Linked DNA regions of Homo sapiens. The protein of the gene in region 1 interacts with the protein of each later gene in a pairwise test. Each region holds a gene or a part of one and is shown on either strand. Other genes may lie near its edges.

Evidence for each region.
Region 2: the proteins of TSPAN18 (region 1) and TMCO5A interact in a two-hybrid assay, tested with the Homo sapiens proteins (one large-scale study listed by BioGRID).

Annotation. Positions count from the first base shown.
Region 1 is NC_000011.10:44,725,168-44,730,694, forward strand, and holds the start of TSPAN18 (tetraspanin-18), read left to right. Parts: upstream 1-1,794; 5' UTR 1,795-2,120; intron 2,121-2,228; exon of another isoform or gene 2,229-2,515; intron 2,516-5,527. UniProt on the Homo sapiens protein: Plays a role in the cell surface localization of ORAI1 and may participate in the regulation of Ca(2+) signaling and the VWF release in response to inflammatory stimuli.
Region 2 is NC_000015.10:37,940,447-37,945,343, forward strand, and holds part of TMCO5A (transmembrane and coiled-coil domain-containing protein 5A), read left to right. Parts: intron 1-702; coding exon 703-759; intron 760-1,224; coding exon 1,225-1,284; intron 1,285-1,744; coding exon 1,745-1,809; exon of another isoform or gene 1,810-1,841; intron 1,842-2,894; coding exon 2,895-2,952; intron 2,953-4,897.

The DNA.
Region 1 (5,527 bases):
AGCAGCATTCCACAAGTGCAGGGCCTGTGGGGTGTTCAGCCTCCACCCTCCATTCTGTTTTGGCAGCTGAAGGGTGAATGTGGAGCCCTTCTCCTTGTCCTCCTCTTATAGAAATTCCACCATTAGGGACTTCCTCCCCTTGGGTGAAGCTTTGCTCACTCTGGGTCCCTTTGAAACCGCGGATCCAGGGATTTTTCTTCCAGCCACGTGCCTACTCTAAGAGTCCCGGTGACGCGGTGAAGTTCTTTAAAGGACCAGACATCCCTGAAGTCCTTACAGGGACATCCCCTTACAGGGACGAATCCATTTCCTGGAATGTGGGCAAGGAAAGGCAGCCACTTCCTGCCTCTCAAAACTCTGGCTGGTGGCTGGGTGCAGTGGCTACGTCTGTCATCTCAGCACTTTGGGAGACTGAGGTGGGAGGATCACTTGAGGCCAGGAATTGGAGACCAGCCTGGGCAACATGGTAAGAGTCCAGCTCTACAAAACACACACGCACACACACACACACACACACACACACACACACACACACACCAAAAACAACAGAAAACATTAGCCAGGCATGATGGCACATGCCTCTGGTCCCAGCTACTCGAGGGGGCTGAGTTGGAAGGATTGGATTGCTTGAGCCCAGGAGGTCGAGCCTACAGTAAGCCGTGCAGGAGGTCGGGCTACAGTGAGCTGTGCTTGTTGACCAGGCTTGTCCAGCCTGGTCAGCAGAGCGAGACCTTGTCTCAAAAACAAAACAAAAACAAAACAAGAAGATCCCCCTCCCCCCAAACTCTGCCCAGTGGCCTGACTACCAACATCCATATACAAGACAGGAGTAGGGTCAACTCCTTCCTATCAGTCACCCCTTAGTGAGAATCAGCTGGCCAAGGGGCCTCCTGCAGAGCTGATGTGTGCTTGAATGCCTAGGGCCCACGGGGATGGGGTGTGGAAGCTTCAAGCTGGGACTCAAAACAGAGTTGCCAAGGGAAGAGGAGTGGGCGACCCGAGCCCCTGTCATCAGTACTTTCACTTGGGCTGTCAGTTTTGATCTGCTTGCTTGTCCGTTTTGTCTGGGGCAGGGTCGGGTAGTTGTTTAGAGGAGGCTCAGAGGTTAAAAGTCTCAGGCAAGTCATGTCAGGGGTTGGGAGCCAGTGCTGCTGTGGCAGCAGTACAGAGAAGAAAAGATAAGCTCCCCAGCCCCGCAAGAACCTCAGCCCTGAGGCCGGAGACACAGATCTGGCCCCTTGCAATCAAGTCATTTGCATCTGACCTGGGGTCAGGCCCCTCCATGCAGGAAGTCCCCTTTCTTATCTGCAAGTCAGAGGAGGGTGAGTTCCCCAGGCTTTCAACAGGTACTTCCCCCGGCAGCGGGAAGCCCAGGAGCCCGATCAGGACCGAGGATCTCACCCCAACCCCTGCGTTTGGGCCCCGGGGTCAGCTGAAAGTTCCCCTGGAATAAACACTTCGGGTCCAGCATGCCCCTCTCCCCACTCCCGCAACGATCTTCCGAATTCAGACGCAGAGAGGGCCCGCGAGCAGAGCGGGAGGTGGTCGGAGGCGGAGGAAGGGGAGATGGGCAGAGGGTGGGCCCAGGGACCCCCAGACAAGGCCTGGACGCGGGGTTGGAGGAGGAGGCGGAGGCTGGCGGGAGGCGAGGGGCAGCCCGCAGAGGAGACGCGCTTCTCGGCAGCAACGGCGTCTGGAGCCGGGAGGGGCGGAGGTTTGGGGAGGGGGAGGGAGGGCGGGGGAGGGGAGGGACGGACGGCGGCGGAGGTGGGGCCGGCGGGCTGGCGGGCGTGCAGCTGCCGCCGGCGTCGCGGGGCTCCAGGCTGCGGGGCGGACGTAGCGCCGAGCGATCCACCGCGGAGCCGCGCGAGGCCGCCCGAGCCCCAGCCCCGGCCCCGGCCCCAGCCCCGGCCCCGGCCCCGGCCCCGGCCCCGGCCCCGGTCCCGGCCCCGAGCCCCGAGCGAGCGCCGCCGCCTCGCGCTGCGGGTCCCCGGACGCGCCGCCACCGCCGGGAAGGCAGCCGGCGCCGGGCAAGTTGCGAGCGCGCCCCTCCGACCAGGAAAGTTTCCCCCCGGCCGCCGGCGGGATTTGGCGCGGGGTCCGGCAGCCGCCGCTGGAAGGTATGGGGCTCCGCACCTCCGTGCCCTCCGCACGCCGCCGCCGCGCCCCCGGGGACCTGGGGACCCCCCCGCGCGCCGCCCCGGGGGTGCTGCTGGACGCGGCGGGGAATTGGGGTGGAGTAGGGATCCCAGGACGGAAGCCCGGCAACCAAGTTCCACTCAAACTAGCACGCGGGGGCTGGGGGGCCGGGGACGGTCTCCACCCCGTGCCTGCCCGGAGTCCGCTGAGGGCCGGGGGCTGCGCCCAGGACAGGTGCAGAGCCGGTGGGCTCCCAGTGCTCCGGGTGGAGGAGTGGGGGCTTCTGGAGAACGGCGCGGGGTGGCAGGTGTGGTTACAAGGTTCGGGGTTTCGGCCAGGGCTGCGCCCGGAAAGGGGCTGCTCGCCACGCCACCCGGTAAGACAGTGAGGGACCAGGGACTGGGAGCGGCGATCGGGGCCGGGAGGGCTGTGGGGCCCGGCAGCTGCATGGAGGGCGGGCTGCCTTTGGGGTCCCTGGCAGCGGGGCGGGGCGGGGCGGAGGCGCCACTCGTTCCTCCAGGACCCCCCTTATTCCTTAGGTGTGTGCGGTTTGGGGAAGTGGAGACTCCATGGAGTGCTGGGTGGGTGGGAGGCTCGGGCACGTCCAGATTTAGGGGGCAGTGGGAGCCAGTTGGGACGGTGCTCGGCTCGGGTGGGATCGCGCCGGCTCCGGGTCCTGCTGGAGTGAGGTGACTGGGCTCCCGCCAGGGGGCGCACTGCCCCGGCCCTCGCCAGCAGGAAGCGCGTTCTGGCTCCTGCGAGGCAACCGCGCCGACATCCAGGACGCAGGGACCACAGACACCCAACTTACGCGGGGTCCCGCCCCGAGGAGCCCGCCCTACACTAGCCAGACGGGGGAGCGGGACCAAGAGTGAGGCGAAAGGTTCACAGTTATAACTGCGCCGTGGGCTGGAAAGGCTAGGAGTCAGGATGTGATTTTTCTCGGGAAGGCTGCCAGGGCAAATGGATGAGTAAGAAATTTACCCCCAGAAAAAGATGTAAGAAACTACAACTGCGAATTGGTGCAGAGAGAGTGGGTTGGGGAATTAACTTTTTGACGGTTTTTGGAGTTGCAGAAACCCAAACCCCAAAATGCATGCACCCTTTTTGTAAAAGTTGCACCTTTGTTTCCTGGATCTGGTCGAATCCCTGTCTGGTGAAGGCAGGATGGGGGTCTTGGGGTATCCTCTCTCTGGGCACAAGTAAACTGGGAGGCACAGGGCGGGCGGTGGGGGATGGGGCCTTAAAGACTTCAGCAGTCCAGGCAGAAGTGTTAAATTTCTCAGCAGTCAACGAGCCCTGGCCCCCACCCTCATCCCCTGGGTCTGTGGTCTCTAGGCCACATTCTTCTGGTCATTTCACAATTATTGGTGGAAATCTGCCCTGGGTCCCAGTTGTCTGGCCTCAGGGTCCCTGTATGTTGAGTCTGTGTGTCTGTGCCTTGGGAAGTCGACGGCTGCTGGCATCTGTGAGGACTGTCATCTTTGTCATGTGCGGGGCTAACATTGAAGGGACATTGGAGGGACTATTGCCTCATCTTTCTCTCCAGTTCCCTCCCTCCTCCCATCACCCCAAGTGAGTGCAAAGGAGCAAATCATAGATTGTGCCGTGGCCTCATTGTGGTTGGTAGAAGTTTTCATCTTTCTCTTAGCTGGTAACCTGTGCTCCTTGGGCAGCCCCCCTCCTGCTCCCATGTCCTTAATGTCCCTTACAAAGGTGGGGGAAATGGGGGTCCCTGAAAGAGATGAGGTTCCTCTGTTCAATGTAGTCTGCCACATGTTTTTGTTGGATGCTACTGAAATGCTCCAGGACAAAGTTGCCATAAAGACAGATCAGCATGATTTTTATTTTGAATAGAAGAGGAGGAGGAGAGAGGAGAGAAAGGAAAGGGTGGAGAAGCCTGCTGTGTCTGGATAGGTCTTTAAGACATTCCAGGGGGCTGGAAAACAAAAGAAGTTTTTTTTTGTTGTGTTTTGCTTTTAGTGACTCTTGTTTTTCTGTGGAGGGAAGCCTGCATGGACCAGCCCTGCCTTGGAACCTGCCTGGGAGCATGGGGCCCCTAGAAGGCCAGCGTTTCCCGTGTTCTGTCCCTCCCCTCTTCTCCCTACCCCCACCCCACTTTTCCTGAATTGGAGAGGGAGTTGAAGGTCCCCAAGGGCTACTAAAGTCTGTGTTTGGGCTTAAAGTATCTTGTGTGGGCTCAGTCTTCTCCCAGGCAAACTCCAAGATCTCTGATTTAGCAACATTTCAAGTCTTGGGCACTCTGTTTCCTTGTCTCCCTTGTCCCCAAACCCATTCAAACAGCCAGTATATGTGGTGCTTTTACCCAACCCCAGTCTGAAATGGTAGCACATCATTGAAAGCTCCAGGACACTTTCTAGAAGCCGAAGTTAGTTGGGTTTAGGATACCTTGGGGTTGGGTTTAGGACACCTTGGGCTGAGTCCAGGAAGGAACCCTCTGCCCTTTAAAAAATGAGATTTTAATGGTCTGAGGGGTGTGTTGGAGGGCAGGGTGCTGGGTAGGGACACAGGATTAATTCAAGGATGTGTGGGAGGGGGTGCCAGGAAGAGGGAAAATAGCAGATTTGAAATCTAGCTCTTCTGAGTCATCCGTGTGGCCTTGGGCAGGTTATTTCCCCTCTTGAGCCTGCTTCCTCCGTCTGTAAAATGAATATGTTGGCTGAGGAGATTCTGAGCTATCTTGCAACTTAGAGCAGGAGAGTCTAACCTTTTAGGGGGCTGGGCAGCCCTGCTCCATTCCTTCTGCCTTCCATTCAGTGGAAGGTGCCTCTCCGGGCTGGCTTGCCTCTCTCTGCCCGCCTGTACACAGCAAAATCCTGCGTTGAGTGAATGCAGCAGCTTCAGAAACCAGCTCCTGCCATCAGAGCTGAAGGACAAAGTGCCCAGCAGTTTTGGGTAGAGAGGGGAATGTCTGTAACCAGTCCCTGCTGGGAGCCCCATGTTAGTCTGCAGGCTCGCTCCCCACTCTTCTTGGGAAGAGCCCTTTCAGTTCCTGGGGTGCAGGTTTTAGGGACCTCTCCCTTTCCAGAGGGCTGCTTTTCTGGTCTATTTCATCAGCCATTGAGAGGGAAAATCAGGAACATTTGTTCATGCTCAGCTGGGGTGCAGCACAGGGAGGGGGCCTTGGAAACCAGCACTCTGGTCCCACTGAGCAGATGACGCCCATTGATCAGGCGTTTCTACCACCTGATGCCATTGAGCAAATGTACCAGCTTGGGCTCCTCCTGCCACCCGGGCTGGCACCTTGGACCTGCATTAGTGCTCCATCTGAGGGAGTGGGGGTGGATCATGAAACACTTTTTTTTTTTTTTTTTGAGAGACAGTCTTGCTCTGTCGCCCAGGCTGGAGTGCAGTGGTGCGATCTTGG
Region 2 (4,897 bases), on another chromosome or scaffold:
TCATTTAGACTTTAGCTCAAGTATCATCACATCAGGGAGGCCTTTGCCAACCACCTACCACCTCCTCTCACACCACCACTACCATCACTATCTTTAAACATTAATTTTTTTTCCTTCATAGCACATACCATTATCATGTAGATGTATTTGTTGTGTCTCCCTACCAGAATGCCAGCTCTGCAAGGGTGGAAAGCTGGTCCATCCTGTCTACTACTGTATCCTAAGTACTACCCCCTGCCACCTGATACACACATGCTTCACTCCAGCATAGCAGCTGATATAGAATGGTCTTTTGCCAAGTATTGAAGGAAATAAAAGGGTGAGCAAGGCATACAGGGAGGGAGAAAGGAGTGAACAAACACCTTAGAGTCTGACTGACTATATTAAAAGGAAAAGGAAGAGTGAAGTTTTTCAAAACTGGTATTATTTTTAAGAGAAATGGCTAAGTAAGAGTAGGAAGCTCAGAATTGAAGTTTAGGGGTGAAGCTAGCACCAGATGAAGACTAAAAGGTAAGGAATATAAAAGAGCAAGTTTACCAAGCAGCTGCAAACGGTGCTGGGTGGCTTAATTCCTCTATCAGGAGACGTGTGAAGTCATGGCCCTGAGGCTCCTCACAGCTCGTGAGGCCACCTTGGTGACAGCATTCCATTCCTGCACAGCTTTTACCTTGCCAAGTTAGCAGTCTCTTTTGCTTTCTTTAGGTTAAGTTACAACAGCTGGAAGCTTCCTATGCATGCCAAGAGAAGGAGCTGCTCAAGGTAACAGCAGGAACTTCAATGTGACTTCTCCCCAAAAAGGGAAATGTGATCTTTGGTCAGGCAATCTATTTCTCAAGTGATTGATTTACATTAAGGTTCCAGATCCAAGACCATGATGGGGCTAGGGAGGGGTAAAGAAAAGGAAGATAAGCACAATCCCTGAGGTTGCTTTCTCTTCAAACATTTTTTTACAGAATACACTCTACAGTTTGTATCTCGCAAATATTAGTTATCTATCTATTCCTCTCCCAACTGCCCCCAAATTCCACCTTTGACCAATAACTCCCATTTAGCTTTTTTACCCTAAAAAAAGGAAATACATTTATCTGTACAGCAAAAAAGAAAACATATTTAGAACAATTAGAAAACCACATTTAGGACCTGGGACCCAAGAGAAAACAAGTATGCTTGTGTTCTTATAGCAATTTACCGAAATATATTTACAACTAAATTTTGATTTCCTAGGTAATGAAGGAGTATGCATTTGTGACCCAGCTCTGTGAAGATCAAGCCCTCTACATAAAGGTAGAGCTTCTTGGTAAAGGGATAGCAAAGGGTTTATTAAGGTACAGGATGAAATAGAACAAGGATTTTCAAAGACTACTGTCCAGAGCAATTTCAACAGTTCAAGGTGGCACTACTAGGATACTTTAAGGTCATCAGCACCCCACCTCACTATCAATATCACTCTATTTGTCTTTGTCTCCCTGGGAATTCCTGCCCTGCTCTCCCACTCTCTGTGCTGTTAAGTTAATAATTCACACTTCTGCTATTTATAATGTCAATGATGCCCAGAAACCTGTCCAGTGGTAAGGCATAGTGAGAGATCAAGAGTAGTAGGGGGGTGAGTTTTATGAAAGCAGAGAAAGTGGCAGTGGGAATACCAAGCATTCATGGTATCATGTAATAACAAGTGCTTATTATGCTTAGAAAAATTGTAAACCTTCTAAGTAGTAACTGTGGCTTTCTTTGTTTCTCTTTGAAGAAGTACCAGGAAACGTTGAAGAAAATAGAAGAAGAACTAGAGGCTCTGTTCCTTGAGAGAGAAGTGTGAGCTTTGGCAAAGGAACATCCTGGTTTTGGTAGAAACTCCATCTCAGCCTGAGTCAGAGCAAACAGTTCTCAGACCAATTTCTATTTGGAATTGAATGAGTCCCGACGCCACATATCTTTGCCCTCTGTTAGTGATCTGGTTGACCCCAGTAGATCACACCAACTTAAAACTTCCAGTCATTCTCCCATCCTTCTAAAAAGACCACAGAAACACATCTCCCTTCGTAATGTTATCACATTATCACATTATTATTCGGGTTGATATTAAGAGTAAAAACATGTACTTTAGAAAGAGTTGGTGGTCAGTCACCTTGATAAGTAGGGTATTCCTTATATATCACAGAAAGGCCTTTTCATTAATACCATCCTCACTTCCCCCAAATATATGGACACCCAACCATAAGGGATAGGCATGAAACTAATCTCTAGACTCATACTACAGCTACCACATTATATAAATCAGAACTGTACACTGTATTGAACTACGAACATTTAAAATTAGAGATGGGAAAGCACTCCTCAAAGTACAATGAGTTTGTCAAGAGTCTAAATGGTGAGAAATCCAAACCAAAAACCTCATCTCCATTTCTTGACCCCCTCTGTAAGTTAAATCTTAATGCAGTCAAGAAGTATTTCTATTTATGAAATATTTTTAAATCCTTAGATCAAGAACAAGAGATCAAAACTGCATATAGCCTCTCTCTATATATATATAGTCCAGGGTCCTAGGACTTGTAGGTCCTTGCCCCTAAAGGACACCTTCAAGTCACTCAAGATCCCTGCTGAACATTGGTTTATGGCTTAACTGTTAAGCCAAGATTCTAGAAAAGGTTGCCCAGTAGAATTTTCTGTGCTAGTTAGTAGGTAAAACTAACTACATATGGCAATTGAGTACATAAAAGATGTACTCAACTGAGGAAATTAATTTAACTTTAATTAATTTAAATAGCTATAGGTAGACAGTAGTTACAATATTGGACAGTACAGATTTAGAATATAAAGCTTTTTTAAAATAACCATAGTGTAGTATGAATATTTCAGTGCACTTTGTTCAATTTCTGTCCTGGCTGTTATCTTCATAGATCAAAACTCGTGAGCATGAACCCTGTGGAAAAAGAGCATACCAGCCAAAATAATGAGGTAAACACTCCATTCTCTCTTCAGCTCCTCACAGTGTCATTGCCTTTCAAAGCCATCTCCAGCAAACTATAAGGCACCAAATATATACCCAATCTTGCCATGCGCATTTTCCAAGAACAGTACCAGCTATAATTACAGAGCATTCCAACCCTAAACAAACAAACTAGACTCTAAGGAACAATCTACTTTCTTCTCATTCAGCCATACAAATAACAGGCTCTCAAAAAACTAGCCGAAGACCTAAGAGAACTCAGAATGGAGGCAAGAAGCAACCTTAATTGAGGGTATGCTCTATAGAAAGAGGCCAATATAGGGCACATACACCACCTCTTCCATCTCCTACAATCACAGTACTCTTTCCTGATGATCTTGACATGGTTCCTAATCTCTCACAACACAGAGCACCCACCATCTGTCATCATCTAGTCAGAATTGGCCTGTGAGTTAAAACATAGAACGCTATTGCTTCTTTGTGACAGAGTTTCAGTGTCTGTTCATATTTAATATAGCAAAGCCACCAGCACACATGTAAAGGTCTGAAGGAAAAGAACAATTTCATACAGAGCACCAATCCTCTTGGCCTGCTTGATGTCTTGTGGCAGCAAGGATAAAAGGTTAAAGTTAAACTTTGGTTGGGCTTTAATTTTGTAATTTATATTGGCTTTAGAGTCCAGGTTGACAAACATCAGAAATTACAGATAGTCAAGATAAATACTTAGAAAAGAGAACTAAACACTTCCTTAAAAGCAAATATCAAATATTGGCCATTGTGTTTGGGTCATCCAAATGTTTGGATATATGTTAGGCCATGTCCATGGTTCTTAAGAGTACTGAACAAGTCATTCTGGCCCCGAAGCTTGCATATTCTGCTTAGTAAACAAAATCCCTGAAATTAACTCGACCCACTTCTGTAGAACCAAGTTTTTGACATCTCCAATGTGTCCTACCATCTCTCCCCACAGCTCATCAAAATATTCCTTCTAACTATGTGTCAGAGGAAAAAATTAAAGTTGTCTACATCAAGCTCATCAGGGTCCCATGATGGTTCAATGACCTAGTGATGTCTGAGCAACTTTGGAGACAGGATGCCTGAGAACTGACTGTTTGGCAGGCCATGTAATCTTACTCAAACTATAGATCAAAATTTGTAATCCTAAAAGTTTCTTTCTAATTCAAATTCTGTAAGCCTCTTTTCCACAGCTCTAATTTTTTTTAGTAGAAAGATGAAGTCTCACTATGTTGTTCAGGCTGGTCTTTAACTCCTGGGCTCAAGGGTTCCTCCCACCTCAACCTCCCAAGTAGCTAGGACTACAGGCACCCACCACCATGCCTGGCTGGCTCTAAAATGTGATCATAATTCCTCTTTTTATCTCACAAGGAAGGTTAAAGGACAATGAAATAACTGAGAAAATATTTTGAAACCAGAATGCCACAGAAATACAGGACATAGCCTCATCTTTAGATTTTTTTTTCTTCAACTTTTAAGTTCAGGGGTACATGTGCAGGATGTGCAGGTTTGTTACATAGGTAAACGTGTGCCATGGTGGTTTGCTGCACAGATCATCCCATCACCTAGGTATTAAGCCCAGCATCTACTAGCTATTCTTCCTAATGCTCTCCCTCCCACTACCTCAACCCCACTGACAAGCTCCAGTGTGTGTTGTTCCCCTGCATGTGTCCATGTGTTCTCATCATTCAGCTCCCACTTATAAGTGAGAACATGCAGTGTTTGGGTTTCTGTTCTTGGGTTAGTTGGCTGAGTAAAATGGCTTCCAATACCACCCATGTCCCTGCAAAGGACATGATATCATTCCTTTTTATGGCCGCATAGTATTCCATGATGTATATATATCACATATTCTTTATCCAGTCTATCATTGATGGGCACTTAGGTTGATTCCATGTATTTGCTATTGTGAACAGTGCTGCAATGATATTTGTGTGC